3 separate regions of the Homo sapiens genome follow, and all the other regions are linked to region 2. The links come from fine-mapping of genetic effects on gene expression. A gene starts in region 2. Each other region holds a variant in brackets. All regions are shown on one strand. Distances are between the middles of the regions.

Region 1 (8,150 bases), 190 kb before region 2:
TGACCGCGCACATTGGAGAAAGTGGTGGGAGGGAGGGGACGGGTTCTCTGGGGCTCTCCGCTGAGCTGAAGAGTCCGGGATCCCGTGGAGTTGGGGGCCACCTCCTCCCACTGCCCGTCTGGACTGAGCCTTCCCTTCCTTCCGCAGGGATCCCAATGAGCCCCGAGACCCCAAGGCCCCACAATGGCCCCCGTACACGGCGGGGGCTCAGCAGTACGTTAGTCTGGACCTGCGGCCGCTGGAGGTGCGGCGGGGGCTGCGCGCCCAGGCCTGCGCCTTCTGGAACCGCTTCCTCCCCAAATTGCTCAGCGCCACCGGTATGCAGGGGCCAGCGGGCAGCGGCTGGGAGGAGGGGAGTGGGAGCCCGCCAGGTGTAACCCCTCTCTTCTCCCCCTAGCCTCGGAGGCTCCCAGCACCTGCCCAGGCTTCACCCATGGGGAGGCTGCTCCGAGGCCCGGCCTCCCCCTGCCCCTCCTCCTCCTCCACCAGCTTCTCCTCCTCTTCCTCTCCCACCTCCGGCGGCTGTGAACACGGCCTCTTCCCCTACGGCCACAGGGGCCCCTCCTCTAATGAGTGGTCGGACCGTGGGGAAGGGCCCCACTCAGGGATCTCAGACCTAGTGCTCCCTTCCTCCTCAAACCGAGAGACTCACACTGGACAGGGCAGGAGGAGGGGGCCGTGCCTCCCACCCTTCTCAGGGACCCCCACGCCTTTGTTGTTTGAATGGAAATGGAAAAGCCAGTATTCTTTTATAAAATTATCTTTTGGAACCTGAGCCTGACATTGGGGGGAAGTGGGAGGCCCCGGACGGGGTAGCACCCCCCATTGGGGCTATAACGGTCAACCATTTCTGTCTCTTCTTTTTCCCCCAACCTCCCCCTCCTGTCCCCTCTGTTCCCGTCTTCCGGTCATTCTTTTCTCCTCCTCTCTCCTTCCTGCTGTCCTTCTCCGGCCCCGCCTCTGCCCTCATCCTCCCTCTCGTCTTTCGCACATTCTCCTGATCCTCTTGCCACCGTCCCACGTGGTCGCCTGCATTTCTCCGTGCGTCCTCCCTGCACTCATACCCCCCCTTCAACCCGCCCAAATGTCCGATCCCCGACCTTCCTCGTGCCGTCCTCCCCTCCCGCCTCGCTGGGCGCCCTGGCCGCAGACACGCTCGACGAGGCGGAGCGCCAGTGGAAGGCCGAGTTCCACCGCTGGAGCTCCTACATGGTGCACTGGAAGAACCAGTTCGACCACTACAGCAAGCAGGATCGCTGCTCAGACCTGTGACCCCGGCGGGACCCCCATGTCCTCCGCTCCGCCCGGCCCCCTAGCTGTATATACTATTTATTTCAGGGCTGGGCTATAACACAGACGAGCCCCAGACTCTGCCCATCCCCACCCCACCCCGACGTCCCCCGGGGCTCCCGGTCCTCTGCATGTCTCAGGCTGAGCTCCCTCCCCCGCGGTGCCTTCGCCCCTCTGGGCTGCCAATAAACTGTTACAGCCACGGGAGTGTGCGCGACTAGGGAGCCAGGGGTAGAGGCAGAACGCCGGAATCACGGGGGCCGAGTCTATGCAGGAGCGGGGCTGGAGGGCAAGAAACAGGCGAGCTCCGAGGCGGGCGCAAGGCAAAGGCCAACCCCTAGCCCTGCCCTGCCGGGCGGAGCTCGCGCCTGCGTAATGAGGCCCGCAGGCAGGCTAGCTGGCACGGCGGAGGGGAGGAGAGGGGAGGGGAGGGGAGGGGAGGGGAGGGGAGGGGCGGGGCGGGGCGGGGCGCGGCGGAGCATTGTGGGAGCTCCTCGGTCGGTGCCGGTCGGTGGCTGCCTATTGCGGCCTGCGGTGATCAACGAGGCCCGGGGAGCGCGTCCCCAGTCTGCGCGCCGGTCCTGCGGCAGCTGGCCCAAGACCCGGAGCCGAAAGGAAGTGTTGGAGCCTGAGGTCGCTCCGCGCCGCTAGGAGGACGCTGTGCCTGGCCTGGGACCTCCGCTCCCGCCCACCGCCCTGGAGCCGCTGAGGGACGTCCACGTGGGCCTGTCCCCGCCGAGCCGCGGCCCTGTCCGCCTGGCGCTGCTCTCGGGCCACTACCTCTACTACCACTACGGCTGCGACGGCCTGGACGACCGCGGCTGGGGCTGCGGCTACCGCACTCTGCAGACGCTGTGCTCGTGGCCAGAGGGCCAGCCCGCGGGCGTACCTGGACTGGCCGCCGTACAGGCGGCCCTGGAGGACATGGGCGACAAGCCCCCCGGCTTCCGGGGCTCCCGGGACTGGATCGGCTGCGTGGAGGCCAGCCTCTGCCTCGCTCACTTCGGAGGGCCCCAGGGACGCCTCTGCCACGTACCCCGGGGAGTGGGGCTGCACGGGGAGCTGGAGAGGCTTTACTCGCACTTCGCAGGGGGTGGGGGCCCAGTCATGGTTGGGGGGGACGCAGATGCCAGGTCCAAGGCCTTGCTGGGAGTCTGCGTAGGGTCAGGCACGGAAGCCTATGTCCTGGTATTGGACCCTCACTACTGGGGCACTCCAAAAAGCCCCAGTGAACTACAGGCTGCTGGGTGGGTGGGCTGGCAAGAGGTGAGTGCAGCCTTTGACCCCAACTCCTTCTACAACCTGTGCTTGACCAGCCTTAGCTCCCAACAGCAGCAGCGCACCTTGGACTGAGGACGAAGTTACAGAACTGAGATTCTCGGGTCCCAGACACGCACCTATGTACCTCCCACTGGTGTCCCTGCAAAGCCTGGCGCTTTTGACATCAATAATAAAAGTGGCAGGGCTGAGCAACACCTCAGGAGTTACTCTGGAAGGATGGAGGAGTTATGTAACACACGAGAGTCAGGAGCCCTGTGGAAGTGCTTTTATTAGCAGTAAGGCTGATCGTACAAAAAATTCTCAGAGCTTCATAGGACAAGGTAGTACAAGTATGGATGATACAGGACTGAGGAACGGGGGACGGCTCAAAAGAAATCAACATCGTCTGGGGCATCCAGGTCCCGATATTCCACAATGGCCCTTGGGTCTCCACGAACCATCCTGTGAGGTGAGAGGTACAGGATGAGAGCTGAGGGCTCCCAAAAGGGAGTCTGCAGGCGGCAACAAAGCTTGGGCGTCTGCCCTCCTCACCTGTTGCGAGGTTTCCCAGGATAACCTCCCTGGCCTCGGAAGGCATCATAGTTCCCTCGACCAGCACCATACGGGGCATGGGGGTATGGAGGGCCTCCTGTGGGGACTGCAGGGCGGACAGCACCAGCTATGACAGAGATCAGTGTTGAGTTGCAAAACTATGTCCTCAATTCCATCCTCTGTTTTCTTCTCCCAAAGCCACACACTCACCAAGCCCCTTCATCTCCCTCCTGTACTTACCTCCATAGCCCAAGATCGGGGGCCGGGGCTGACCATAGGGCATCAGGCCCTGGGGAGTCTGGTGTGGGTAGGGGAGTCCTGGGGTCAAACCTGGGGGGAGTACAACACGGACAGGGACATGAATTACTGCGGGGGCGGGGAGGGGGATACGGGTACAATTGACTTCTAGGGCTATGGCCTGAGGATGGGGCAGAAACTTCTCGGGGTGACACGTTAAAGAGAAACAGGAGTCCCTGGGTAGTCAAGGAAGAGGGCACATGCGACCTTCATGGATCGTATCTTACTCTGGGCGGGGCCAGGTGGCTGGGCTGGCTTGATCTCAGGCAGAGCTGGGCGCTTAGCATCAGTGAGGAAGTTGTTAAAAAACGCGACTTCCTTTTTCACTTCCTCAATTTTCTCTGCATGCTTGTTGAAGATATGTTTGCGCACAAACTCAGGACCCTGGGTGGAGAGAGGAGAGGGGTCAGGACAGCCACATAAGGGTTGCCTCGCTCCCAGG[C/T]CCGAGCTGGAAGGATTCCCAGCTCCCGCCTGCCAGTGCAGTAAGCAGTTCCCCCACCCCTGCCCAGGGGGCTTCCTGTCTCAACCCCACCTCCCACCACCGTAGCACGGCCATTCTCCAACATCCCACACCTTGAATTTCTTGCCACTGAGAGGACACAGCCACTTATCCTTGCCCAGTTCCTGCGTGTTGGAGGTGACGAACTTCTCCACTTCCTGCTCTGGGTCTTTGCGCCCCATCTTCTGGGCCTCTTCCTCTGAGAGTGACTCCCGCACACTCAGCAACGGCGTGAGCTTCTCCTCAAAAGTCTTCTGCCACTCCAGCACTGTGGTTTGGGAACAGAGGAAGGAAGGTTGGCAAGGGAGCCAGAAGGAAGGATGGTGGCAAGGGGCTGGAGGACCAAGGCCAGGGGCAGCCGGGAACAAAGGGGAACCTGGAGCTCACCTTCCCCGTGACTGATGCGGTTGGGTGGCATGGGCCCCCGAACGTGGATGATCCCACAGCGATTGGGCATCTCGTCCTCGTTGGGGTACTCACAGGTGTTGTAATAATCCAAGGAATGCACGATGCGCAGGTAAAGGAGGAGCTTGTCCAAGACCTAAGGGAAGTGAATGCGAGCGTTCAGCTCCTGCCCTCACCGCCCGAGCCCCCACGTGCCCCGCGCTGCCACTGGCACCTTAATCAACTTCTCATCCCGCTCCACGTTGATCTCTGCCGGGTTCCCTTCCTTAGGAGGCTCCTCAGGAGGAGCGCCCCCGCTGCTCCCCAGCAGCTCCTCCTCCTCGGCGCTTACTTCCTCGATCAGGTAGTCGGTGATATTCTTCAAGATCGGGTTTTGCGAGGGCAGGCTCTGATGGGAGGAAGAGAAGCAAGTAAGGCAGAGAAGACCTTCAGAGGAGGTAACCTGAGACTTTCCACAAGTGAAAGAGCAGCGAGGGGACAGGAGTTCACCGGACATAAATGGCACCTTTTGCCCCCTTGAGATTTGTCTTTATTTTAGCTTTTGTTCCACCCCAGCCACAAATGATCACTAGCATCCCCCCAGTTCTGCTGGAATCTGGAGGTGCTGCTACCCACACACGAAGGGGCAAATGAGTGAGCAGGCGAGTGGGTGCAAGGGTTCAAGGCTACAGATAGGTAAGGTCAGAGGTGCCCACAGCAGAGGCACTACCAGTTGCTTCTGACAAAGTCCTTTGGGGAGTCACTGACCGTGGGCAGGGGAGGCGTCCCTGGTTCTGAGGCCCAAAGCTGTGTCCTGTCATCCAGCGTGTGGATCAGCTTGGCCGCCAGCTTGATGTCGTTGCGCACAATCTGCTTGTGCTGGGTGATGCCGTTGATGTTGCGAACGCGCCGGGTCAGGTCCCTGTTCACACCAGGGCTCAGCTCACACTCCCGGAGCTGGAGGGCAGACATCATCAGCAGCTTACCCCACTTACCCCGCTTGCCAGAGAAACAGCAGCTCTAAGACCCTTCCCTCTTGAGCACCAGCGATTGATCAGACTGCGAGCTCCCTGGGGACGGGGACCACATAGGTTCCGTCCATGCTAACGCCCTAGAGCCTTGCCCAGAGACAACGTAGCCAGACAAAACGGTCAAAGAGTGTGCAGAACAACCAAACTATCAGATGAACAAAGTCACACAGAGGTCCCGTGTGGCACAGAGTCTCCCTTCCTCTTCCCCACAGTCCCACCCCCAGCACTCACACGGATGTTCTGCAGGTTCCAACAGATCTCTTTAATGTTAACACTGCGGTCGAAGGTCACCCAGCCACGACGGAAAAACCTACACAAGAAAGAAAATGTTAGCATAGTCAAGCGAGGGAGTTGGTGTTGGCCATTAACGTTCCCCTGCACTTTTCCCTCCAACGCACCGAGTTACTCACCTCCTCTCTGGCTGGGGCTCTGAGAGCGCCACCCGCATAAAGCCTGGGTACCTTTTACAAAGCTGCAAGAAGCAGAAAAGCAGCCCCACAGTGACTCAAGGATTCATTCGCTTCTTCCTCCAATCCCCCACTGCCCTCAGAACCCTAGGGACTAACTGCCTTATCACTCTTCCCATCCTTGGGCAGGGAAAAACCACTAAAGGGCTTCAGAACACCAGCACCTGAAAGCCAATGGCGCTATCAGGACTAGTCCTCGGAGGCCATGGAACCTGGGGAAGGGGCCTCCCTAGCAGGTGAAACGGGGGCATCTGTCACAGGCAGGGCCCCACTGCCTTCCCTCTACCCTCCACTTCTCCATCAGCCCTGCCCTGACTCCACGGGTCCCCACTCACGGAGATGATCTCGGCCCGGGAGATGTTGGGCGCGATGTTGCGCATGAAGAGGGAGCAGGTCTTATGCAGCGGCCGCGGCTTGCACTCCAGCCCCGCGGCGTCCTTGGGCTTCTCCCATTCTTCTTCCTTGGGCTTCTCCTTCTCCTTGAGCGCTTCTTCTAGGCAGGAAGGGGGGTAGGAAGGAGTTGGTGCATTTTTATTACTGATTGTGGTGGGGAGGATACAGAAGCTTTCCCCTAAAAGCCACCCACCCTCCCGTCAATGTCGCCAACCTCTCACCTCCCCACCCGCATTAGGAGAACGCACTTTAAAGCAGAAAAGAAACCCTACCGGCCTCCTCCTTCTCCTCCTCAGCCTGGCCGCTCTCTGACTCCGACTCAGACTCTGACACGCTGCCCTCGTCAAAGCTGTCGTCACCACTGTGCTTCCGGTTCCGCTTCTTGCTACTCTGTGTGAGCCACAGCAGAGGGGACAAGTCAGCGTGCCAGAACCCCAGCCCCAACACTCTGACCCCAGGCCACAGACACCTCACCTTTTTGGCTTCCTTCTCGGAGTCTTCTTTCTTCTCTTCCTTGTCCCCATCACCCTCCGACTTCTTTGTTTTGTCATCATTAGAACTGTCATTCTCAGCCTATGGTAAGAGACAACCACTGGGGATGTCAAACCTCCCCTCCCACCTTTATCAGAGGGCCCCCACCCCCACAGCTGAGGCCACAGGTTCATTTTCCCCAGCCCCCTACTTCTAGCTCCTATGGACCCCTACCCGCCCCCCTCCCCCAGGCTGCCAGGGACAACACTAGGAGACCCAGGGCTCGGACCTGCTTGCCGTCTTCCTTCTTCTCATCCTTGTCGTTGGTTTTGCGCTCCCCGTCCCCTAGGCCTGCTCCAGCCCGTCCTTCTTCTTTCTTGCTGGGCTCCCCAGGCTTTCCTGCCTGCTCCTCCTCCTCCTCCTGCTCCAGGATGCGAAGATCATTCTCCGTGCCTCCTTCCATCTTAATCACGGCTACCAACAAAGGGAACAGAGGTCATGACCCCAGGGCCCTGGCTCCTGTCAACCGGCTTCTACCTGATCCCCAGACACCCCCACCCCCATGGGGCCCAGATGCCTGCCACCCCTCCAAATCCGCACACCTGCATCCAGCATCTTGACAATGGCATCAGCTTTGTCTATGTCCAGGAGAAGGTTATCAAACCAGCCAGTCTCCATGAGGGACAGGAAGACCCTCAGTCGGTTTTGCAGGGCCCCCCGGGCCTCCTGCCGACGCTTCCCCACCTCATCTGGGTGGTACTTAGACCGAAACCTGGGAACGAAGCGGGGGAGGGAAAGACAAAACAGTTATTGGAAGCCAAGGCCAGGATGTGGGAAGGGGCCCAGGAAAGACAGGGCATATCCCCCTTCCTCTCACAACCACAAAAGGTCATCAAAATAGAGAGATTAAGGGATAGGGGTGCGCTAGAACCACCCAACACCCCAAAAGGAACCAGAAGTTGTGTTCTGTGAAGATTTGGGGGAGAACCAGGAACTAAGAGCTCTGGATTTGGGAAGACCAATGACTACAGGGGGACGCCAGGGTAGGAGAGGCAGATTTACCACTTTAAATCTCTGGGAAACACTAACGTAGTAAAAAGGTGTCATTTCCCAAAGCTTCAGAGAGGAAGGCTCAGGAAATAGCAGGCCCTGAAGAACCTCCCTCTCCTCACCAACCCCAAACTGCAGTCATTCAAAAACTGCTCCCGCCAACTCCCTCCACCCCGAGGTGGAAGACAGAGGGCCAGATAGCAAAAGCCCAGAGGCAGGGCACCTTTCTCCACCCGTGGGAAGATAAGCAAGACGGTGAAGGGACAGGAAAGACCGAAGGGAGACACTGGAGTGCCCTTTAGAGCCTCAGGTCCTGCCCACAGGGGGAGAGAGAGGAGAGGGCTGGAAGGTTAGGGAGAAGAAAAATAAAACATTTCAAATAGGACCTCAGAGGGAAAACAGAAGAAATGAGGAGTATGAGGAAAAGGGGAAAGGGAGGAAAGGGGAGAGTGTGAG
Region 2 (8,168 bases):
CCTGCCTCAGCCTCCCTAGTAGCTGAGATTACAGGTACGTGCCACCACGCCTGGCTAATTTTGTATTTTTAGTAGAGACGGGGTTTCTCCATGTTGGTCAGGCTGGTCTTGAACTCCCAACCTCAGGTGATCCACCTGCCTCAGCCTCCCAAAGTGCTGGGATTACAGGTGTGAGCCACCATGCCCGGCCAATTAGGTCCAAGTGATTTCTTTGTAATTTTTAAATTCTTCATGGGAGACTCACAGTTCTTTTTTGTTTTTTATTATATTTTTTCACTTTTCTCTCTTTTTGAGTCAAGAACTCATTTTGTTGCCCAGGCTTCTGGGCTCAAGGAAGGACAAGGTTTATTAGCAGCATGAGAACTGACTAATACAATCACGGTGGAAGACCAGAGGGGTCTCCCTGGATCTCCTGGACACCAATGTGTGACTTTGGACAAGTAATCCCCACCAACTGTAAAGTGTGAACACTGATGCTGAAGTCAGCAGAAATTAAAGCCTATAAACTCCCTCTTTGAGAAAGGAAGCTAGCTGGCAGGGCACGGTGGCTCACGCCTGTAATCCCAACACTTTGGGAGGCCAAGGCGGGAGGATCACTTGAGGCCAGGAATTTGAGACCAGCCTGGCCAAAACGGTGAAACTCCATCTCTACCAAAAATACAAAAATTAGCTGGGCATGGTGGCGCCTGTCTGTAGTCTCAGCTACTCAGGAGACTAAGGTGGGAGGATCACTTGAACCCAGGAGGTGGAGGTTGCAGTGAGCTGAGATCACGCCACTGTACTCCAGCCTGGGCGACAGAGCGAAACTCCGTCTCGAAAAAAATTAAAATATTAAATAAAATATAAAAACAGACAGCAGGACAGGCACAGTGGCTCATGCCTGTAATCCCAACACTTTGGGAGGCCAATATGGAAGGACTGCTTGAGCCCAGGAGTTCGAGAACAGCCCAGGCAACATAGTGATACTTCAGTCTGTACAAAAATTTAAAAGTAAAAAATAATAGCTGGGCCAGGCACAGTAGCTCGTGCCTGTAATCCCAGCACTTTTGGAGGCTGAGGCAGGTAGATCACCTGAGTTCAGGAGTTCGAGACCAGCCTGGCCAACATGGTGAAACCCTGTCTCTACTAAAAATACAAAAATTAGCCAGGCATGGTAGCACACACCTGTAATCCCAGCTACTTGGGAGGCTGAGGCACGAGAACTGCTTGAACCTGGGGTCGGAGGTTGCAGTGAGCTGAGATCACGCCACTGCACTCCAGCCTGGGCAACAGGGTGAGACTCTTTCTCAAAAAAAAAATAAATAATAAATAATACCCGGGTATGGTGGTGTGCCACTCCCTGCAATCCCAGCTACTCGGGAGGCTGAGGAGGGAGGATCACTTAAGCCTAGGAGGTCGATGCTGCAGTGAGCTGATTGTGCCACTGCACTCCAGGCTGGGCAGCAGAGCAAGACCCTGTCTCTTAAATAAATAAAATAGTTAAAAAAGGAAAACAGACAGGAAAACTCCAAGTGCAGAGAAGCCTAGTGGTACTTGGTGGGGGAAACAAAAGTTGTTCCAGGTATAATAGTTCCTGAAGTCAACACTCTATCATGGCAAGACACCAGGCACTCAAATTCCAAGTCATGAACTTACCTTTTCCTTGTTTTGAGGATTACATTGTGTTGGGCGACAGCTCTTTTAGGCTTCTGGGAAGTAAGGTATACATTCTGGAGTAACTTCCAAAGAAAAAGGTGAAAGCATACGCGGAACTTTTGAGCCTTGAAAAAGTTCAGCGAGTCATTCTTGAAAAGTCCTTTTTTTAAACAAAGGGGGTTTCAGTCACCTCACATTTGCATAGCAGTTTCTCTCTTGTCAAAGCCTTTCACATTCACTTATTTTAATTCTTACAGCACTCAAGGAAGAGTGTGGAGTTGGGGGTCGGGGGTTGGGTGCAGAGCAGTGTTAACATCCTTCTGTAAGAGAAACGGAGGCTTTTGAGAGGCCAGGCGTGGCGGCTCATGCCTGTCATCCCGGCACCTTGGAAGGAGGATCCATTTGGGTCCAGGAGTTCCCGGCACTTTGGAAGGAGGATCATTTGGGTCCAGGAGTTCAAGACCAGCCTGGGCAACATGGGGGAAACCCTGTCTCTACAAAAAAAAAAAAAAAAAAAAAAAAAAAGCTGGGCGTGGTGGTGTGCCCTGGTAGTCCTAGCTACTCAGGGTGCTTGAGGCAGGAGGATTGCTTGAGCCCAGGAGGCGCAGGATGCAGTTAACCGTGATCGCGCCACTGCACTCCAGCCTGGGCGACAGAGCAAGACTCTGTCTTGGAAAACAAACAAACAACAAATACAATAAATTAAAAAAATTAGTTGGGTGTGGTGGCACACAGCTGTAGTCCCAGCTACTCAAGAGGCTGTGGCAGGAGGATCCCTTGAGACCAGGAGTTCAAGACCAGCCTGGGCAATGTTATGAGACACGCCACCCGCCCAGTCTTTACAGAGAATAAAAAAGTTATCTGGGTGTGATGGTGCACACCTATAGTCCCAACAATTCAGGAGGCTGAGATGGGAGGATCGCTTGAGACACGGGAGTTGGAGGCTGCCGTAAGCCGAGATCGGGCTAGTACACTGCAGCTGGGGCAACAGAGTGAGACCCTGCTTCAAAAAAATAAATAAATAGGGGCCGGGCGCGGTGGCTCACGCCTGTAATCCCAGCACTTTGGGAGGGCGAGACAGGCGGATCACTTGAGTGGTCAGGAGTTCTAGACCAGCCTGGCCAACAAAAATAAGCCAAACGTGGTGGTGTGTGCTTGTAATCTCAGCTACTCGGGAGGCCAAGGCATGAGAATCACTTGAATCCGGGAGGCGGAGGCTGCAGTGAGCCGAGATCGCGCCACTGGACTGCAACCTGGGGGACAGAGCAACACTCTGTCTCAATAATTAAATAAATAATTAAAAAAATAAAGAGGCTCCTGAGAGTCAACTTATTTGCCTGAGCCACTTATTTCACACATCCCAGGACGCCTGATGAAGGGTTCTGGATTTTATTGTCTCCTGTCATCCAGGCGGGCTTCCTGGAGGAAACCGGACCGCCAGGGAGGCCGCGGCCTCGGTCCCAGAGGTCGCGCGTCGCGGGGCCGGGGGAGGTGGGGGAGAGGAGGCCGCTCTGGGGCCGATCCCGCCCGCAGCTGGGGGCCCCCGTCACGTGACCAGCCGGGCGCCCAGGTCACGTGTCGGGGCGGGGAGGGGGGGGGCTGTCGGGGGCGACGGGCGTCCGGGCAGTGGCGCGCGCGGCACGCGAGCAGCGCACGAGGAGAGGTGGCGCGGGCCGGAGCCGCGGAGGGAGGCGGCGGCGGCGGCGGCGGCGGCGGCGGCGGCGGCGGCGGCGGCGGCGGCGGCGGCGGCGGCGGCGGCGGTGGAAGGGGCGGCCCCGCGGCCCCGCGTCCGCGTCACGTGGTGCGAGGCGGGCAGCCATCTTGCTACAAACACAAACACAGAGGAGCGGCCGCCGCGGGAGCGCCAGCGCCCCCTCCCCCGCTGCTAGCCGCCGTCGCCGTCCCCGGCCCCCGCCCGCCGCGCGCCGCCCACGCCCCGGGACCGGACCCTCGCGCCGCCCGCGGTAAGCGCCCAGTGGCCCCGCGGCCCCCGGCCCGCAGCCCAGCCCCGGGGCAGGCCCGCCCCCGACGCCGCGGCGGCCGCGCCGAGCCCGCGAGCTAGAGAAGCGCCGGAGCCAGCGCGCGGGCCGCCAGCGAGGACCCTCCCCCGTCTCCTCCCCGAGGCCGCCGCAGCCCGGTGCGTCCTCCCGCTCTCCCGCCCGCTCCGGCCCATCCCCGCCGCCGGGACCCTCCCCCAGAGCCGGCCAGCCTCGGGGAGGCCCCGGGAGGCCGGCGCCCGGCTTAGGGGGCGACCGCTCGCCCCCCTCGCACCTGGCGCCCCTCCCTGAAGGGCACGCCGTCCTCCCGGGCCGGCGCGCTGCCTTCCACCCCCGCGCTCCTAACGGTCGCCCCCGGGCCCCTGCCAAGCCCTGCCCTGGGCCGCCTGGGGGCCCCCGACCCTAGCGTCCTAGGGTGGCCGGGCCCCGCGCTTCCCGGAGTTCTCCCCAGCGCGCCTTTGGGTTCCCCTCGGAACGAGCTGGGCCTTGCGGTTCCCCAGGTCCAAGCGTTCCACGACTTTGGCCAACATGGAAGCCTTGCCCTCCACCCAGGCACCTCGCCTGGGTCCTCCTCACCTCTGTTTCCTTTCGCTCCGGCGATCTTAGTGCTGGGTCATTGGGGTCTCCTTCTTCCCAGTTGCTCGGCCGCGGGAAATACCTTCCTTAGCAGAGACTGCTTGTCCTCCCCGTCCCAGGCCAGGCCCTTCTCAGCTCATGCCCCTCCGTGCAGCAGCTCCCTGGCCACAGCTCTCACACTTTGCCTTAAAAAAAAAAAAAAACAAAAAAATTTCCGAGTAACTTTTTAAAAGCCCCTCGTCTCTCTTCTCTGTTATACAGTCATTACTCGCATTCCCGGTCAGACTCCAGGTCTGTTGCATCCTAGTGCTAGGAACTAGGAGATGCTACATAAAGACTTGTTAGCTGGATTGGATTTTTTTTTTCCAGCCACCCAAGCCTTACTTCCCTCCTGCCTCTCAAAGTGTCGTTCTGGAAGATCGTCAGCTTTCCCACCCTCTTGTGCACTGCCTCTTCGAGTCTATATAGAAGTTTCAATTTAGAACCCCGCCAACCCCTCGCCTTTGGCATGGAAACACCATCGGTGGTACCAGTAAGGGTCTCTCCTTTGCTGCCGACATGGGGGATTTGGGGTTCTTTCTCCTTCCCATCTTTCCTGTGCCCTTTGCAGACCTAGGCTAGCCACCCTCCACCAGGCTAGCCAGCTCCAATCTGATTTTCTTAGATTGTAGGTCTTGGTCCCCCAGCGGTCTGTCGTGCCATTGGGAAGGATTTGAGGGTAGACCTGGCCTTGGTGTCCCTGCCATTGCCTGGGGACCAGGGGCCCTGAGGGTCCCACGTGGTGGTTAGTCAAGTGGACCATGTGCTTAAACTTCTGGACTAGCTTTTTCTGCTGTTGGACACATCAGTCTTGTGTTCGTGATCTGATGCGTTAGCCCTAACTTTTACATCTGCTATTGGAATTTGGGAATTAAAGAAAAATAGCCCACTTTAGAGGAGAGAAGATGAGAGGAGGAGGCTAGATGAAGGATGTTGAAAGTCTAACAAATGTAAAATGGCTTCAAACTCACAGAATAATGCTTGCGAGTTTGGGATGGTTACTGCTACCGTGCGCACCTCCAGTCTTGCATAGTGTCAAGGATGTCGGGGCACGCTGTCGGAGCAGCTTCCTCCTTCTTTTCCCTGGCTGGAGCCCAAGGCTGGGCAAGTGGGCAAAAGGGATCACAGGAGGTAAAGAGTGAAAATCCTTTGAAAACTGTTAACTTGTAGACAATTGCCAAGCGGTGGTGTGATTTGCTGGGATGGCTCAGAGAGGAGAGAGCTGGGATAACCGACCAGCCGCGAAGAATGCGGGTTTGCATCTCTTTTTTAAGCCTCAGCGTCCTCACCCTACCACGCTTGGAGAATCTCCATCCTGAGAAAGGGCCAGGTCCCCTCCAGCAGGCCTGGGGCTGGGCGGTTGTTCCAGTGTTGAGGAATTGGGGACTGTGCTTCTGTTTAAGTGGCTCTGTTCTGTGCCAAGGCACAGTGCTCTGTGTTGGAGCTAATTTTAGGGGTGATGGAGTGAGGAGATAATGTTCTTAGCTGAATGTGCACTGGGACCGCCTGTTCTCTGTCTTTTCTTTCTCTCTTGAGTTCTGAGCCCCAGAGAGCAGGCTCCCTTTCCCGCGCGCCCTGGCGCCTACTGGAGCACCCGGGCCCAGCGTGTCCTCGCCCCTTGTCTCCGGCAGGGGGCAGTCTTTCAAAAGCATTGATTCAGATGCTGGGGGAGTGAGGGTAGACAGGCCCGAGAAAGAGAAGGGGTGGGGAAGGGGCGAGGAGCCGAAGTAGGCCGAGGCTTGAGGGCAGGGCCAGGGCGGGGGACAGGCTGGAAGGGGCCTGTGAGAAGGAGACCCTGAGCTGAGAAAGCTCAGCCGGGTAAGCTGAGACGGGCAGGTGGCAGTACCCCAGCCCCCGCCACCTCCTGCTCTTACCTTCATTGGACAGGGATCAGATACCTGGCCCTGAGAGCTTGCAATAGACAAACTTAGGCAGTTTTTCTTAAAAAAAAAAAATCTATTCTTTTCTCAAAGATTTTCTCCTGGCAGGATTTCAGATTTCCCTCGTGGGACAGTGTAATTAGGGAATGATGTCCCTGCTGTTCAGAGAGGAGAATGACCCAGCGTGCACACACCTGCCTTCCCTTGCCTTCCCCTTGGCCCAGTAGACCCCCAAGGGCTGTGCCCATGCTCGTGGCGCAGAGGAGGGTGTCTCAGCACTGGCGCACTTGGTATCTGGAGTCACATAGCTCTTGGCTGTGGGGCTGCCCTGTGCACCCCCTGCCCAGTGGTGACAACCCAGAATGTCTCTAGACTTGGCCAAGAGCCCCCTGAGGAGCAGAGGTGCCCCCAGTCCAGAACCTGTTGGAGGGTGGGAGCCCCATGGTGGCCTGCAGGTGTGCCACTAGTTCCTTTAGTCCAAGGAAGGGGCCAGGCACCATCAGCTTCCGGCACCAGACCCTGCTGTGGGGGTGCCTAGAGAGTTAACCTCACTCTCCTGGTTTCTTCCCAAGAAGGCGGGTGGCATGGGCTTTTTCCTGCTCTGGGCCTGCTCTCTCCCCTGTCTTGGTGTCGCTGTCCTCAGTCTGCATGAACCATTCCCCCTTTGTGTGCCCCTTGCAGCCAAGACACAGCCAGGATGGGTGACTTGAGCCGGAGGCACCTAGGAGAGCTGCCCTTGCTGCGCCTGGCAGGGGGCAGTGTGAGGCCATCGCTTTAAATTTTTTTTTTTTTTTTTTTTTGAGACAGAGTCTTGCTCTGTTGCCCAGGCTGGAGTGCAGGGGCGCAATCTCAGCTCACTGCAACCTCCGCCTCCTGGGTTCAAGCGATTCTCCTGCCTCAGCCTCCCGAGTAGCTGGGATTAGAGGCACCTACCACCAGGACTGGCTAATTTTTGTATTTTTAGTAGAGACAGGGTTTTGCCACGTTGGCCAGGCTGGTCTCAAACTCCTGACCTCAGGTGATCTGGCTGCCTTGGCCTCCCAAAGTGCTGGGATTACAGGCATGAACCACCACGCCTGGCCACTTTTTCTTTTTTAAAAAATGTTTAGAATTGTTTCTGTAGAGTCGTGGTCTTGTTCTGTTACTCAGGCTGGTCTCGGACTCCTCTCTTCAAGCCTCCCACAGTGCTGGGATTATAGGCATAAGCCATTGTGCTGGCCAGGTGGTCCCTTTTCTGTTCTACTCTCTCCCACCCTCATGCCTCCAGGATGAGCTTCTGGCCTTCTAGAAGGAATGAACTGGAGGAGGCCCAAAATGGCCTCTCCTGAGGCTGATTTGAAGGAATGTGGGGTGTTTTTCTTGGAGTGGGGAAAACTTAGGTATGCGGTGGTTATCTCCAGATACCTTTTGTTCCCTAAAGCTTTTTTAAAAAAATGATTATTGTGGTAAAATATACAACAAAATTTGGAGACTTTAACTGTCTCTAATTGTGCCATTCTGTGTTACTAAGTACACTCACATTGGTGTGCGGCCATGACCACCAGCGGCCCCAGGATCCCCTCCTCAGTTGAGGCTCTGGACCCTTCAGCAACAGCTCCCTGTCCCCTCAGCCCCTGGTGGCTGCCCTTCTACCTTCCTCCCTCAATGAGTGACTGCTCTAGAGACCTCATGAAAGAGAAGTAAGGGGTAGCTCTCCTTTTTTGGCTGGTGTGTTTCTCTTAGCGTGATGTCCTCAAGGCTCATCCAGTCCCCAGATTGCTCTAGGTGGCCACCTGCAGTCAGTGACAGGCTGGTGGCTTTTCATGTCATGGAACACACCACCACTGGAGCATCCAGCCGAGGCAGAGGAAGGAGAGGTCCCAGGGGAGGCCAGCCTGGCCTTGGGTTGCCTCTGAGCCCGGTGTTTCCCCCTGGAGTGCCTGGACTCTGAGCAGGCCTCGGCTTGTCATGGGCTGCTGGCTCAGCTGGGGCTGATGGCCTTTCCTCCTCAGCACCCTGGTTGAACCCGCTTCCTCTTCTTTCCCAGACTGTGGCGTCCTGG
Region 3 (8,142 bases), 19 kb after region 2:
TGAGGGTGAGGAGCAGGGCCGGGAGCCTGGTGGGGAGGGCCTGGCCTAGCTCGCCCCAAAACTCACAGCCACTGCATTGATGTCGGATTCATGGCCGATGAAGGTCTGTCGGCACATGGAATCCCGCACGTCCCACAGCTTGATAGAGGCATCACAGGCGCCTGACACAAACGTGCGGCCATCGGGGGCCAGGGACAGGGACATCACATCCCCACTGTGTCCAGCAAAACCCACTGTCTGCTGGCCTGTCTCAATGTCCCACAGGGCACTGGAGAGGTGACAGGAAGAAAGAAAAGATAAGAGACAGGGCGAAGAACAGAGTCCCTGTTCTCCCCGCCCCACCACGTGAGCCCAACCCTGTGGAAGGGTCCAGGGAGGCTCTTCTCAGAGCCTTAGGTGGGGAGGGGACGCATCCCTCCCTGACCCCCTTAGCGCCCACCAGGAGAGGGAGGCTACGGTGCATGCTGCATGTTGAGCACTGGGACGGTGGCCCCTGAGGCAGGAAGTGTGGGTTTGCCCAGACTGCCCAGCCCTGGCAGAGCCTCACCAGGTGGTATCCCCAGAGCTGGTGATGATTTGGTTGTCATCCAGGAAGCGGCAACACGACAGGTACCCTGGGGAAGGAGCTGGTCAGCCAGGTCTCCACACGGAGGGCAGTGCACCCCCCAACCCCAAAAAGGGCCCGAACTGGGCCAGGCCCCTCACCAGTGTGGCCAGGCAGCTCCCGGCTGACCCTGACGTTGCCCTCGCGGGTCTTGAGGCTGTAGATGGAGCAGATGTTGTCCAACCCCCCACAGGCCACAAAGTTCCCTGAGGGCGCGTAGGCACAGGTCATTACCCAGGAGGAGCGCAGCGGGATGGCGTGGACCTGCGGAGCAGGGGAAGCGCCGGGGTCAGAGCCAGCCAGGGCCCTGTGGCCCTGCCCCACCCCGCAGCCCGCGCCACCCTACCTTGTTGGTGGTGTAGCTGTCCCAGATGATGAGCTTCCCATCCTGGGAGGCGCTGACCAGCAGCCTGGTGGGGAACGGTGTAGGGAGAGCAGAAGGGTGGCGTGAAAACAAGACACACCCCCTTCCCTTTGGGTGGGAGAAGGTAGGGTCTCTCTCTGTTGTGCAGGCTGGAGTGCAGTGGCACCATCACAGCTCACTGCAGCCTGGAACTCCTAGGCTCAAGTGATCCTCCCACCTCAGCCTCCCCCGCATAGCTGGGACTACAAGGTGAGCACCACCACACCCAGCTCATTTTTCAATTTTTAGTAGAGCCAGGGTCTCACTATGTTGCCCAGGCTGGTCTCAAACTCCTGAGCTCAAGTGATCCTGCCCTGGCCTCCCCACGTGCTGGGATTACAGGCGTGAGCCACCTGAGAGACAGTCTCCAGCTGCAGCCCACAAGTTCTCACCAGCATGGTCCTGCCTGTCCAGGTCTGGCGGACATGTCTGGGAGTCACCGTTTTTCCAGACGTACGCTGGGTATTTTGGTGGCCTGCTTACTCCGCCAGATCTGAGGCTGCTCCCACGGCCTGCTAGAAAGTCGGCCCACAGCGCCAGCCCGCGCACACACACACACCTTGAGTCGGTCCCCCAGTGCATGGCATAGATCTTTGCCAGGTGCCCACGGAGGGTCCTCCGGGTCCTCATCTGGATTCTCCCCACTGGGTCCAGCCCAGCTGTGATCTGGAGGTAGAGACAGAATGCGCTCGGGGAGGCCCAGGCAGCAGGACTGCAGAGGGCAGCGGCCTCTGATCCTTGCCCCTTCAACCCCTAGTTACGCTCTGGCCACCAAGTGCCCTCACCTGGGTCAGTGTTGAGTCCCCACATGCTTTTCGGGCATCCTGTAAGGGATGGCAGAGCCAGAGAGACGCGAGAGAAGACAGGTTGGGGAGGAAAGGGAGAGAAGAGAACAGAAGACAGGAGTGGACAGGGTCAGATTCTGAGCCATTAAGGGGCCCTCCCTCCCCCTTCCCCCACCAACACCCTCACCCAACCCGGTCCAGGGCACCGGGCGGTGTACACATGAATCGCCCGCCCCGCACCAGGCCCTCACCCGGATCTGGTTCCGGAGCTGCTCGGCCTCCTGTCTCAGTTGCTCCAGCTCACTCATGGCGCCGGGCCCGTGGGGCAGGGTTGGGGGCGGCTGGGGGCCGCGGGACGGGGGCTGGGGGAGGCAGCTCCTGGCCGCTGGCCCGAGGCCTGGGGGATGCAGGGCTGACGTCAGGCCCGAGGCCGCCGGGGAAGTGGGGAGAAAGGCGGGGTTGCAGCGCGGCCCGGAAGGGGTAAGCAAGGGGAGGGGGAAGGGGCGGCGCGGCCGCCGTCCCCGGGCACAACCAGGGTCTCCGGCACCAGAGACGTCGCCGAGTAAGAGCCGACTTCCCCAATCTTCCTCCCGCCCCCCGGAAACGGAGCGGGAAGTGCAAGAGGAAGCGCAGGGGAAACCCCTCCCTCGGACACAGCCCGGGCAGGACACCCGCGGCAGGAACTGGGGCGGGGGGGGCGGGGGTGTCCCTTCGAAAACAGACCTGGCTTCTGCCCCAGCCCGCACAGGCACCGCCCTCCAAGCACCTAATTTTAAAAGGGGCGGTGCCTCTTGAAATTCACCCCACAAGGCGCACACCCTCCACACACACCCCCAGCTTCGATGGTGGCGGGTGGGGGGAGAGACCAGAGGGGAAAGCTGGGCTGTTCGTGGGGTTGCCTAGGCAACCGTCACCCGGACCGAGAGCACCTCATTGGTGAAATGCCCCCACCCTAGCCCCGTTGCCAAGGCAACCGCATCCACGGCAGAGACCTGTAGGGTGGGTGACCCCACCCCCGGCCCCATCGCCCCCGCCCGACCCAGCCTCCCGCCCTCCCCAGAACCGGCCCGGGTGGCTGTTTACAGGATTTGGGAAAAGCCGATTGGGCGCTAATAGGTTCTGGACGGCTCACCCCGGATAATCCCCGGTCCGGCTGCGCCCCATTAGCCGTCCGCCGCGGGTGGGGGTGACAGCGGCGGGGAAGGCAGCCCCGAGCCGCTGCTCCCTCCAGCGCAGGGACCGCCCGCCCCGCCGCGCCCGCAGAAAGCCCGTGGGAGCCGCTCTCGAGTAATTACGGCTCCGCAACGAGGTCCCCGGCCCCGAGGCGCGGAGGTGCTCTCTCCCAGGCGCGGGCGGGCGGCCCCAGGCGGCCTGGCCGCGGCGCCCTGGACACCCGGGGGGCCCAGCCCGCAGGCTCGGCGCCCGGGCCCCAGGGGCCCGGCTGGCTCCGCTCCGGGAGCCTGAGTCCTTCCCCGCCCGCGGGACACCTGTGCGATCCGGCCGTACACACTGCACTTGGCCGGCCCAGGCGTCCCCCACCCAGCTCCCACTTCCCCCAGGCGCAGGGCGTTCCTCTTCCCCACTGACATTTCCCCTCCTTGTAAGTTCAGCTTTCTACGCCAGTGCCAAGGGGTGACCCTCAAAATCGGGGGATGGGGGGTGCGGGCAGAACTCCTTACTCTACCCAACCCCCAGGCCCGCACAAAGCCTCTTCCACCTACTAGCAGCCCAGGCCTGGCGGCACCGCCGGAGGCCCAGGGCAGAAGGAAGCACGGCTGGAGGAAGAAACTGGGGGCGGGGGCGACGTTCTCAGCCCTCGGTCCCCATCACCCCCCAGGGCCCTCAGCAGCCCCCAGACTCTAGGGATATAGCAGCCGGCGCTCCATAGAGAAATGAGGGTGCAACCGCCTCCGCAGGTCTGGCGGGGCTCAGGAGAGTGACGGGAGGGTCCCTGGATCTGGCAGCTGGAAGGCGCGGGCTGGTGCGGCGCTGCGAAGCGCAGTGGGCCTGGCCCTCCAGCCCCTACGACCTCCATTTTGCCTAAAAGAAAGCTGGGCGGGGGGCGGGCGCCTGGGAGCTGGGCTTGGGGTGAGGATCTGTAAAGGGAATAGGGCGCCGAGGGCTCCAGTTTCGGCGAGTGGGGCCAGAAACCACGGGCAGCACCCAAATCGTGGGTAGGGTGGAGACGAAAGGAAGGGTGGCGCGCGGCCTTGCCTGCTTCTCCCCGATTTTGGAGTTGTGCAAGGCGAGGGCCGGCAGGGGTGCGACAGTGGAGGACACGAGGGGTGCTCCCCGGGGGCAGGCGGGAGGGTGGCGGTGGGGAAAGGGGGCGGGGCGGGGCCTAGAGGAAGCCCGGAATTTAGCCCCCCAACTTCCGAGGGAGCAAGAGGCAGTCGGGGCTGGGCTGGGGTCTGGGGTCGGGCAAAAACTTCGCTGATGGTGCGGGGAAGCGCACGCACGGTGGGGGGCGAGGGTTCCCCAGTTCCCCTTCCGGGTTTGGGAGCGACCGGGCAAGAGGGGAAGGGAGCGGAGGTCTGGGGAGTTACGTCCGCTCCCAGGAGGCCAGCCCCGGGAGACCGAAGGAAGAGAGGTTCCCCTGGGGGAAATTGGGGCTGGGGGGCGAGAGGACTCCTTTTGCCAGCGAAGGTACCTGTGGCGGTGGGACTCTGCGGCGG[A/G]GGTCGCTGGCGGTGCGCGGGCGGCGCTGTCTTCCTCCGCGGCGGAGGCGGCGGCGGCGGCGGCGGCGGCGGCGGCGGCGGCGCGGATGGATTTCCTCAGTGGCCCCAGCCCCGCCGCCAGCGCTGCCTCCCCAGAGCGGAGGGATCCCGCCCGCCAGTGACGCGGCTGCCGCCGCCGCGCCCAGGACCCGGCTGGGCGAGACCAACTGCCTCGCACTTGGGGGAAGCCAGGAGACAAAACCCCACCGAGGGAGCAAAGACGGGCCCAGTCGCTCCCAAGGTTCTCACCCTACGCTTTGTGGACGCAAACCGTACTCAAAGGGTTTGCTTCACGGAAAGGAGTAAGACATCCCCCCTCTGGGACTGGAGGAGGTGGTACTGGCATATGAGGAGGGTGAGACCGCTCGCTGGTCACGTGATCAGCCTCCCGCCCCGCCTGGAATGGGTGGCTCCAGACTGGGAAGGGGAGTTCGACGCCCCAGTTCCCGGTTGGGCCACGCCCCGGCCCTGAGGAGGCCACGCCCCTCACCAGGGGGCGGAGCTAAAGAGACCTGGACGGGGCCGGCCTCGAGGCTGCTGGAAGAAGAAGCGCGATTCCGAGAAAGTCCCCGAGCGGGAGTGGGTAGGGGCTGATGCGGGCGCCCCGGGAATGCCATGAGAAGGGTCGTGTCCAGGCATTTCCTCAGCCTCGCCCACTGGGCCTTTGTAGACCCCCTTTCAGGGCTTGCCACTGAAATAACAACTCATTTATTGAGAGCCACACTTTTTTTTTTTGAGACGGAGTCTCTCTCTGTCGCCCAGGCTGGAGTGCTATCTCAACTCACTGCAACCTCCGCCGCCCGGGTGCAAGCGATTCTCCTGCCTCAGCCTCCTGAGTAGCTGGGACTACAGGCGTGTGCCACCACACCCGGCTAATTTTTTGTATTTTTAGTAGAGACGGGGTTTCACGGTGTTAGCCAGGATGGTCTCCATCTCCTGACCTCGTGATCTGCCTGTCTCGGCCTCCCAAAGTGCTGGGATTACAGGCGTGAGCCACCGCGCCTGGCCCGACACTTATTTTTTAATTGGAGTACAGTGACGCGATTGTAGGTCACTGCCACCTCAATCTCCTCGGCTCAAGTGATCTTCCTGCCTCAGCCTCCCTAGTACCTGGGACCACAGGCGTGCCCCAGCCACCATGCCCAGCTAATTTTTAAATTTTTGGTAGAGGTGGGGTCTTGCTATGCTGCCCAGGCTGACATATGTTAAGTCTCACAATACTGGGAAATTAAGTGCTAACATTCTCCCCATTTTCTTTTCTTTTCTTTTTTTTTTTTTTGGAGACAGGGTCTCACTCTGTCGCCCAGGCTGAAGTGCAGTGGCATGATCTCGGCTCACTGCAACCTCCGCCTCCTGGGTTCAGGCGATTCTCCTGCCTCAGCCTCTGGAGTAGGTGGGATTACAGGCGCCCGCCACCATGCCCAGCTAATTTTTTTTTGTATTTTTAGTAGAGACGAGGTTTCACCATGTCGGCCAGGCTGGTCTCAAACTCCTGACCTCAGGTGATGTGCCCGTCTCGGCCTCCCAAAGTGCTGGGATTACAGGCGTGAGCCACCGCGCCCAGCCTTCTCCCCATTTTCTAATAGTGGAAAGAGACCTGAGGCTGCAGAGTTTAGATATGAACCCAGGCAGCCAAAACTTTACTGTACATTCCAGTTTATCTGTATGAGCCTCTAGATGAACCCCTTCCTCCAGGGACCTTGCCTGTAAAGGGACAAGAACGTAGGTCTAGGCCTCAGTTTCCACATCTGTTAAATGGGGATGTTGACAGCATCTGCCCTCCAAGTCCCGGATTCTTACTGAGAACCCCATCGATTGTGGAAATGCTTTGGGAAGTTCAAGGCAACGAATAGCCTTCACTGAGTCCTTGTAATTTGAAAGTATCAAAACACGCAGCCATAAGAAAGAACGAGATGGGGCTCACGCCTGTAATCCTAGCACTGTGAGAGGCCGAGGCGGGTGGATCACTTGAGGTCAGGAGTTTGAGACAAGCCTGGCCAATATGGTGAAACCCCGTCTCTGCTAAAAATACAAACATTAGCTGGGCGTGGTGGCACACACCTGTAATCCCAGCTACTCAGGAGGCTGAGGCAGGAGAATTGCTTGAACCCGGGAGGCGGAGGTTGCAGTGAGCCAAAATCACACCACTCACTGCACTCCGGCCTGGGCAACAGAGCAAGACTTTGACTCAAGAAGAAGAAAGAAAGACAAAAGAAGAAAAAGTAAAAGAAAGAAAAGGAGGGAAGGAAGGGAAGGAAAGAAAAAAAGAAAGGAAAGAGAAAGGAAGAGAGAAAAAAGAAGAAATCATGTCCTTTGCAGCAACATGGATGCAGAAAAGAGAGAGAGAGAGAAAGAGAAAGAAAAGAGAGAAGGAAGGAAGGGAAAGAAAGAAAGAAGAAACAAAAGAAAAGAAAAGAAGAAGAAATCGTGTCCTTTGCAGTAACATGGATGCAGCTAGAGGCTTTTATCCTAAGTGGATAAATTTCTGCAGGAACAGAAAACCAAACACTGCATGTTCTCACTTATAAGTAGGAGCTAAACACTGGGTACTCATGAACATAAAGATGGGAACAATAGACACGGGGGATTACTAGAGGGGGGAAGGGTTGAAAAACTACCTATTGGGTACTGTACCCCAGGTGACGGGATCAATTGTACCCCAAACTTCAGCATCACAAGATATACCCATGTACATGGGTACATTCATGTGCACATGAGTCAGAATCTAAAAAGATGAAATTATATTTTAAAAAGTATCAAAACATACTCTTCATTTAGTCTCTGTGAAAGACATTACAAATCACTTTTCAAAAACAATTGTTTTTTCTTTTTTCTTTTTTTTTTTTTTCTGAAATGGAGTCTTGCTCTGTCACCCAGAGCTGGAGTGCAATGGCACAATCTCGGCTTACTGCAACCTCTGCCTCTTGGGTTCAAGCGATTCTCCTGTCTCAGCCTCCCGAGTAGCTGGGATTATAGGAGCATGCCACCAGGCCTGGCTAATTTTTGCATTTTTAGCAGAGATGGGGTTTCATGTTGGCCAGGTTGGTCTTGAACTCCTGACCTCGTGATCTGCCCGCCTCGGCCTCCCAAAGTGCTGGGATTACAGATGTCAGCCACCGTGCCCAGCCTACAATTGTTTTTTCCAAATCGAATATGTTATGAACATAGTAGTTGTCTTTGTAATGGGTACACACACTCACACACACAGAATGATCTGCCTGGTGGGGCAGGGAATTGTAAACATGCCAAAGGGAAAATGAAAAAAGAATCCTGTAGGTTTTCATTATTTTAGGCAATTATGTCCATATCACTTACAAAGCTATTGCCAAATCTGTCTAAGGAAGCAGAGTTTGAAGGTGGGCCGGGGGGGACATCTGGGAGAAATTCGAAAATGGCATAACAGAGCTCTCAATATGAGAAACAAAAGCCCAATATTTTTTTAAAGAAAATATAAACAATCGTATTCGTAGTTAGATGCAAATTCTATTTATGCATACCTGCCAATTCAGTGACATATAAGCAATAGATAACAGATGTCAACTACACATGAGAATTTGGGAGGGACCTCAGAGATAATTACGTTGATTTCCTCAATCTGTAGATGGCCACGATGACTTCCCTAAAGTCACTTAACAA

Alleles and levels. Positions count from the first base shown, and alleles are read on the strand shown. Sizes are in standard deviations (SD) of each study's normalised expression. Not every link is listed here.
For the expression in atrial appendage of the gene that starts at base 3,459 in region 2, G is the low allele of the variant in region 3 and A is the other (small effect, 0.29 SD a copy in GTEx).

The links.
Region 1: its variant is fine-mapped to the expression of GIGYF1 in whole blood (TOPMed, PIP 0.99).
Region 3: its variant is fine-mapped to the expression of GIGYF1 in atrial appendage (GTEx, PIP 0.93).

The regions. Positions count from the first base shown.
Region 1 is chr7:100,883,336-100,891,485 of GRCh38, reverse strand. SRRT (serrate, RNA effector molecule) reads right to left here. Exons shown (of 20, transcript NM_015908.6): 6 at 7,247-7,416; 7 at 6,934-7,118; 8 at 6,648-6,746; 9 at 6,446-6,563; 10 at 6,116-6,273; 11 at 5,724-5,785; 12 at 5,545-5,623; 13 at 5,051-5,239; 14 at 4,518-4,691; 15 at 4,286-4,439; 16 at 3,973-4,166; 17 at 3,627-3,783; 18 at 3,343-3,444; 19 at 3,103-3,229; 1 more. The coding sequence ends at 2,937. It overlaps UFSP1 (UFM1 specific peptidase 1), which reads left to right and starts at 1,771. Exons shown (of 1, transcript NM_001430944.2): 1 at 1,771-2,765. The coding sequence starts at 1,987. The coding sequence ends at 2,643. ACHE (acetylcholinesterase (Yt blood group)) reads left to right here. Exons shown (of 5, transcript NM_000665.5): 4 at 148-317; 5 at 1,151-1,492. The coding sequence ends at 1,272. RefSeq lists silencers at 328-377, 449-606, 1,698-1,747 and enhancers at 1-544, 768-827, 545-1,278, 4,949-5,682. The variant C/T (reference allele first, on the strand shown) is at 3,842.
Region 2 is chr7:100,689,541-100,697,708 of GRCh38, reverse strand. It overlaps GIGYF1 (GRB10 interacting GYF protein 1), which reads left to right and starts at 3,459. Exons shown (of 27, transcript NM_001375765.1): 1 at 3,459-3,599; 2 at 8,154-8,168. RefSeq lists an enhancer at 1,550-2,353, silencers at 3,041-3,200, 3,641-3,740, 3,911-4,030, 5,793-5,962 and a cis regulatory region at 2,892-4,385.
Region 3 is chr7:100,670,224-100,678,365 of GRCh38, reverse strand. GNB2 (G protein subunit beta 2) reads right to left here and starts at 4,626. Exons shown (of 10, transcript NM_005273.4): 1 at 4,443-4,626; 2 at 2,044-2,189; 3 at 1,793-1,831; 4 at 1,567-1,673; 5 at 951-1,014; 6 at 706-868; 7 at 548-614; 8 at 67-268. The coding sequence starts at 2,100. RefSeq lists silencers at 2,027-2,606, 2,617-2,856, 4,447-4,626, 4,877-4,956, 4,967-5,096 and enhancers at 3,527-3,606, 3,807-4,016. The variant A/G (reference allele first, on the strand shown) is at 4,468.